Linked DNA regions of Homo sapiens. The protein of the gene in region 2 purifies or fractionates together with the protein of the main gene of each other region. This does not show direct contact. Each region holds a gene or a part of one and is shown on either strand. Other genes may lie near its edges.

What was found. The genes of interacting proteins can lie anywhere in the genome.
Region 1: the proteins of MYH2 (region 2) and PPARA purify together in Homo sapiens (co-immunoprecipitation; one large-scale study listed by IntAct). This does not show direct contact.

What each region holds. Positions count from the first base shown.
Region 1 is NC_000022.11:46,230,394-46,234,054, reverse strand, and holds part of PPARA (peroxisome proliferator-activated receptor alpha), read right to left. Parts: intron 2,264-3,661; coding exon 1,816-2,263; intron 1-1,815. UniProt on the Homo sapiens protein: Ligand-activated transcription factor. Key regulator of lipid metabolism. Activated by the endogenous ligand 1-palmitoyl-2-oleoyl-sn-glycerol-3-phosphocholine (16:0/18:1-GPC). Activated by oleylethanolamide, a naturally occurring lipid that regulates satiety.
Region 2 is NC_000017.11:10,543,159-10,546,819, forward strand, and holds part of MYH2 (myosin-2), read right to left. Parts: intron 2,345-3,661; coding exon 2,188-2,344; intron 970-2,187; coding exon 942-969; intron 859-941; coding exon 744-858; intron 646-743; coding exon 553-645; intron 4-552; coding exon 1-3. UniProt on the Homo sapiens protein: Myosins are actin-based motor molecules with ATPase activity essential for muscle contraction.

The sequences.
Region 1 (3,661 bases), on a different chromosome or scaffold from region 2:
GTCAGGAGTTTGAGACCAGCCTGGCCAATATGGTGAAACCCCATCTTTACTAAAAATACAAAAATTAGCCAGGTGTGCTGGCATGTTCCTGTAATCTCAGCTACTCAGGAGGCTGAGGCAGGCGAATCACTTGAACCCAGGAGGCGGAAGTTGCAGTGACCTGAGATCGTGCCACTGCACTCCAGCCAGGGTGACAGACGGAGACTCTGTCTCAAAAAAAAAAAAAAGGAGGAATCTTTTGAAAAATAGAAATCCCCCCTCATAATTTTAATCCCACCATAATAGGTTTAACATATATCTCACTGGACATTTTTCTATATACATAGGATTGATATAGGATTATAATTTCCTTTATAAAACTGTGATCATGCTACATATAAATAGTTCTGCAACTGCATTTTACCCACAATGCTACATCCTGACCATACTAAAGGACAAATTATGCATAACTGCTTTGTCTTTGTACACTTTATGCCAGAGCGCAAGGACTTCCTTCATCTGACTTGTGCCCAGCCACACAGTAACGGGCACGGCTGGTAGGGCTGAGTCAGCTCCATGCTGACAGTGAGTCAATCCCCCAGGCGCAGTATGGCTGCAGGCAGTGTGGGAGACCCCATCTGTCTCCACCAACCCTGGGTAAGGTCAGCCGAGTTTGCAGTAGGTGGATGACCTTCCTAGACCTGAGATGGGGCTATTTAAAGGAACGTGACACCGAGCCAAAAATGTGGAGGCTGCAGAGCCAGCTTCCACAGAGAGGACCAGATCGGCCTTCCCTGGGATCTGCTTCCTCGGGCAAAGCAAACCTTGCAGTCACTGCCACTTGGCTGCTGACTGATATTATATTTTGCATTAGGAAATATACTTTTCATCAACATAACCAACTGTGACAGCAACTATACTGACATCTGTATAGCACTTCATACAATATTGTCTATAATATGAATACAACATCATTATATAATATATACAGGAATATCATAATATATAAATTATATCTGTTTATAATATTAGATATAATATAAACGAAATGTGTGTGTGTGTGTGTGTGTATAATTTTTTTTTTTTTTTTTTTTGAGACAGGGTCATTCTTCGTCGCCCAGGCTGGAGTGTGGTGGCGTGACCTTGGCTCACTGCAACCTTTGTCTCCTGGGCTTAAGTGATCCTCCCACCTCAGCCTCTCAAGTAGCTGGGACTACAGGTACATGCCACCATACTTGACTAATTTTTTCTATTTTTTTTTTTGTAGAGACGGGGTCTTGCCATGTTGCCCAGGCTGGTCTCAACCTCCTGGGCTCAAGTGATCCACCCACCTCAGCCTCCCAAAGGGCTGGGATTACAGGCCCATGTCCGACCTCTTTTTCTCTATATATATATTTGTGCAAAATATATAATTTTTTTTTAAAGAAATAGGTCTTGTTCTGTTGCCCAGGCTAGAGTGCAGTGGTGCATTCATAACTCATTGCAACCTGAACTCCTGGGCTCAAGAGATCCTTTTGCCTCAGTCTACTGAGTAAGTAGCTGGGACTAAAGGTGTGCACCCCCACACCTGGCTAATATTATGATTAAAATGTCATACATTTACATAATATTAAATATGTATTTATAGATAATAACAATATATACTATAATATTATACAATATTGTTATAATTCCCACTGAATTCTCAGCAGTGACTGGGGGTCAGACGTCTTCCCACCATGTGAGTGTCCCCTCCACTGGAACAGCTCAGGCTGGTACTGGATTTCCCATTGTCAAATTTTTCAAGACAGGAGCCTGTCAGTGACATGATACCAGCAGATTAAATCAACCACTCACCTCCACAGCAAATGATAGCAGCCACAAAAAGGGAGATATCACTGTCATCCAGTTCCAGTGCATTGAACTTCATGGCAAAATCAAACTTGGGTTCCATGATATCACAGAACGGTTTCCTTAGGCTTTTTAGGAATTCACGAGTTATAAACCCATTTCCATACGCTACCAGCATCCCGTCTTTGTTCATCACAGAAGACAGCATGGCGAATATGGCCTCATAAACTCCGTATTTTAGCAATGTCACTTGATCGTTCAGGTCCAAGTTTGCGAAGCCTGGGATGGCCTTGGCGAATTCCGTGAGCTCCGTGACGGTCTCCACTGACGTGCACTGGCAGCAGTGAAAGATGCGGACCTCCGCCTCCTTGTTCTGGATGCCATTGGCCACCAGCTTGGCCACCAGCGTCTTCTCAGCCATACACAGTGTCTCCATATCATGTATGACAAAAGGCTACAAAGGAGGACACCAAGGTAAGTCAGGTGATGTGGGATGCGCTATGCTCCCAGCTATCAGCTCACTAATGAGCAGCTCCTGCGTCCAAATCACCAAGCTCAGTGCCTCAGAGGACTCAAGATACCCGCGGAACATAGTCCTTACTCAACTTCAAAATCGGTTGGGGAAAATAAGACATTAATAGAGAACAAACAGTATAAATCAGTAAAATAATAATAGTCATCGCCTGACATTGGGTGGATTTCATCGCTAAGAAACTGAAGTACTGGGCTGGGCATGGTGGCTCACGCCTGTAATCCCAGAACTTTGGGAGGCTGAGGTGGGTGGTTTACCTGAGGTCAAGAGTTCGAGACCAGCCTGGCCAGCATGGTGAAACCCCGTCTCTACTAAAAATACAAAAAAATTAGCTGGGTGTGGTGGCGGGCGCCTGTAGTCCCAGCTACTCGGGAGGCTGAGGCAGGAGAATGGCGTGAACCCAGGAGGCAGAGCTTGCAGTGAGCCGACATTGCGCCACTGCACTCCAGCCTGGGTGACAGAGCGAGACTCCGTCTCAAAAAAAAAAAAAAAATTAGCCAGGCATAGTGTGTGCCTGTAACCCCAGCTACTCGGGAGGCTGAGGCAGGAGAATCGCTTGAACCTGGGAGGTGGACGTTGCAGTGAGCCAAGATCGTGCCACTGCACTCCAGTCTCCAGTCTGGGCGACAGAGCGAGAGTAAGACTCCGTCTCAAAAAAAAAAGAAACAAGAAACTGAAGTACTGATTTTGTCAAAACAAAACTAACGAGGACATTAGCAAAGCACCTTTAATATTCTTAAATATTCTCTGAACTAATGACTATTGCAAGAGGCTTAATTACGATCATTCTTAATTTTACCAGTATATGCACTTTAGGGGTGAACACCATTATTTAACGCTGCTCAATGAATACATTTGGCATGTAAATACATACAACTCAGAAAGGTGGCATCTATGTAGAAATCGGCAAACAAGCGTTGTGAAACTCTTTAGGGATAAAGTGGAAAAGCCTCGGAATGCCCTTGTTTCTCTCAGTGCAGGAAACTGAAACCTTCACTCGGTGCTCCATATTCTGGAGCAAGTGCCAACTCCCCACAGCCGTGCCTTGTGTGCTCCCATGCCATCTGCATGTAAACCCAGTGGCCTGCCATTTCCTGAAGATCTCGTGGTGGAAGAGGTGGCTGGCCATATTATTTGAAGCCAACATGCTCAGAAGGGATTACATGTGTGGGAGAGCCGGGGAAAATGAGCACAAACACTGCTGTTGGCTGAAATTTACATCTGCGGGTAGAGCAGGAAAGTGACAACATCTGAGAGATCTCTCTGATTATAATGTGGTCCACAGCTCATGCAGACACAGGTCAATAATGCAGTGGGCTA
Region 2 (3,661 bases):
ACCCTTGAAATAAAAGCTAATATTACTACCTTTTTTTTATATAATATTAAATCTTTGAGAAATTCCAAACATTTGATGCTGGTACTTTAATATTAAATCAATTCAGAGAGTATTTGCATCAGGTAGAAAAAGGTGTATCTCCTATTTTATAAGTAGAAGAGTTTTATCTTTGATTTAAAAATTGTAAATATTTCTTAAGTATGTGAAGTAATGGATATGTTAATTAGCATGTTAATCATTCCATAATATACACATAACATATATCAAAACATCACATTGTATTTCGTAAGTACAATTATTATTTGTAAATTAAAAATAAAAATTTTAAAATTGTGAGTAAGTGTAGATCATGACAGATAAGAAAGAACTCAGGAAAAAGGCCATATATCCTTCAAGATGGGGCTTTGATCTATGTTATTACATGCTCAGAGGAAAAGGAAAGAACAATGATGTAATAGAATGGGAATGAAAAAGATTCAGAGAATGTAATTACAAACATCTCATAAATTTTGACCAGTGAACAGCATCTATTAGCGTGTCCAAGAGACTTACAAAGCGAGAGGAGTTGTCATTCCTCACGGTCTTGGCGTTGCCAAAGGCCTCCAGTAGGGGGTTGGCACTGATGATTTGATCTTCCAGAGTCCCCTGCAAAGGCAAGAGCAGTCCTTGCATCTGGGGCTTGGGAATTTCCTACCTGAGAGTCCCGACAGAGTCTGGATTCTGACTGTGACAATCAGACTCACCTGTATTTTGCCAGAAGTAATTTCTTCCTTCTTCTTCTCACCAGTAACTGCAATTGTTGCAAAGTACTGGATGACACGCTTGGTGTTCACAGTCTTCCCTGCACCAGATTCTCCACTGTCAAATCAAAACTCAATCAGATGTGGTCTCAAACCTAGCAGCTATCACAGCCATGTAAAGAAAGCATAAAATCTACTTACGTGATCAGGATTGACTGATTCTCTCGGTCTACAAAAGAAATTATAGACATTTAATACTGTTTTCTTACATATTTGTAAATGATAAGTAAAGTAAAATGGAATGAACTTAGTATTATTCAGTCTGGACTTTGCAACCTTTAGGGCTTGGCAGGCTTTAGACCTACCACTTTCTCCCTCCCCAACTTTAGCACACATCCACCCATTTAAACAGAACACCACTACTTTTATTGGTTTTATATTCAAATCTTCCAAGAAATATTTCCTTCGAGGAAAAAAATTCTAAGATGAAGGAAAATGTTTGAATGCCACTCTATAAGTGATGACCACGTGGCTGTGTATTCCTGAAGCACCAGACTTTTTCTTTTTAATACTCTATCACTAAATAAACACCAAAAGTAGACTTGGCTCTTTGGTTAGGTTTAGTTGATGATTTAAGTTAGGGACATATATATTGTGGGTGCAAGGCGTAATGAAGAATGAGCATTAGAGATATTTTTAATGTGTGAAAAGGAGTAAGTACAGTAAAGGTGATAGTTTTAGAAATACGGCTTTGGTCATATTTTTAGGAAAAGGTAAAATTTTGTTTTGATGTTTTACTGTCTCTGAAGAGGAATTCTCTAAGCCCCTTCTCAAGGTGCCACAAGTAGTTTAGATTGGTCTAGCCAAGACAATATTGTAGGAAGCAGATTCAACATCTAACTGTTTTAATACCAAATACACCTTAAATCTGGAGCCTGTTCAGGTTGGTTCTGGGCAAAGGGCGATAGCATTGTGCCGTCCTTCATATAGAGAGACTGTTTAATCTGTCACAATTTAGGATGCTGAGGCTGAAACTACAGAGACAAGTTTTACTCTTCCATTTTTTGGCTCATAGTAACGGAGACACAGTTTGTATGTGTGATTGTGCGTGCATGAGTGTGTGTGTGTGTGTGTATATATACATACACAGAAATATTTGTATTTTTGCTCATATTTATTTGAGTTTCTGAGTCATTCAAAAGTATACTAACTAACCATGGCCAGCCTCTGTTGAACTTTTCAAAATTTAAGAGATCATTAGCAATTATGTAATATTACGCATTACAAATCAGCCTTTCTCCCCTTCCTGGACCTTCTCCTTCATAAATACACCAGCCTCAACTAAAAGGGACGATCTCAAGGAATGTGTTGAGATTGCCTCGAGTCTCTTTCTCCTATGGTTCTGCTCTAAAGGTTTACGCACTTGCAAAGCATTCGGCTCACTCACCAGTCAGCATGAACTGATAGGCGTTGTCAGAGATGGAGAAGATGTGGGGCGGGGCCTCCTGGCGCTTTTTGCCTCGGTAGGCTGTCACCACCTCGGGCTTATACACAGGCAGCCACTTGTAGGGGTTGACAGTGACACAGAAGAGACCTGAATAGGTCTATGAGAAGGAAAAAGAATAAGTACCCAAAGACCTTTCCTGTTATTTGTGAAATTAACTTATTAATTGAATGTTTTTTTGAGACAGGGTCTTGCTCTGTCACCCAGGCTGGAGTGCAGTGGTGCTACCTCAGCTCACTGCAGCCCCAACCTCCCGGGCTCAAGCAATCCTCCCACCTCACCCTTCCAAGTAGCTGGTACTACAGGCATGCATCACCATGCCCAGCTAATTTTGTACGTGCTTTTTGTAGAGCTAAAGTCTCACTTTGTTGCCCAGGCTGGTCTGGAAATTAATTGAATTTTAACAAAAAGGAGCACTTTAAGTGAGTACTCTTATTTCTTCAAGGCATCAGCTTGAAAACTAGTTGGCAAGTTCAACAATGTGATAGCAGAATCCTGAGGGAAGTGACTACAATTCAGCTTTCTTATTGCTCTCCTCAGGGCTTTTCACAGTGATTTTTACATAGCAGAAGAAGAAGTACATGTTATTAAACACATGTGCTATGAAACTTTTATTGTTTTATGGAAATGGTTTATATTTTCTTTGCAGCATTAAGATAATTCAAATTTATGAGAACATAAATTTGGACATAAGCTAAGTGGCCAACAGTAAGGGAATGGTTAGGTGAACTATGGTAAATCTTCTAAGACAATTTGATGCAGGCATTTAAAAAAGTAAACATGAAAGTATACAGCAACACTCAGGAAATATTTACAAAACGTTTTTAAGTTATAAGGAAACAGGACACGAAATGATATATATATATATATATATATATATATATATACATCATGATTACAATAGGGGGATTTAAAAAATCTTTGACAATTGGTTCAAGACAAGCACCAACTAGTTAAACTGGATGCTGACCATCAACTCTAGGTACACTTGTATAGGTGTTGCCTAGCTAAATAACAGCACTGGCTAAACTATGCAAAAATATGAATATAGTATAATAAATTTGATTTAAAAATATTTACTGCATGTTTATTATGTGCAGACCTTTACCAGACAGTATAAATGAGACCAGATAAATGAGATGATGTCCCTTGAGGAATCCCCAGTCTATGTAGGAGACAGTCATGTAAATGAATGATCAAGGAGAAACATGGTTAGTGTTAAGGCAGGGACAGAAAGGAAAGGACAGAACATCTCACTGCTTGGGGAAGTGGGAGAGGTTTCATCGAGGAGGTGACATTCCAGATAGAAGGGACCAGAACACACAGATACAAATTGCTGTTATTTCAGGGGATTGAAAATGAGTGAAATTTGTTTTTAAAAAAAAAAAAAATGTAGGCCAGGCATGATGGCTTATGC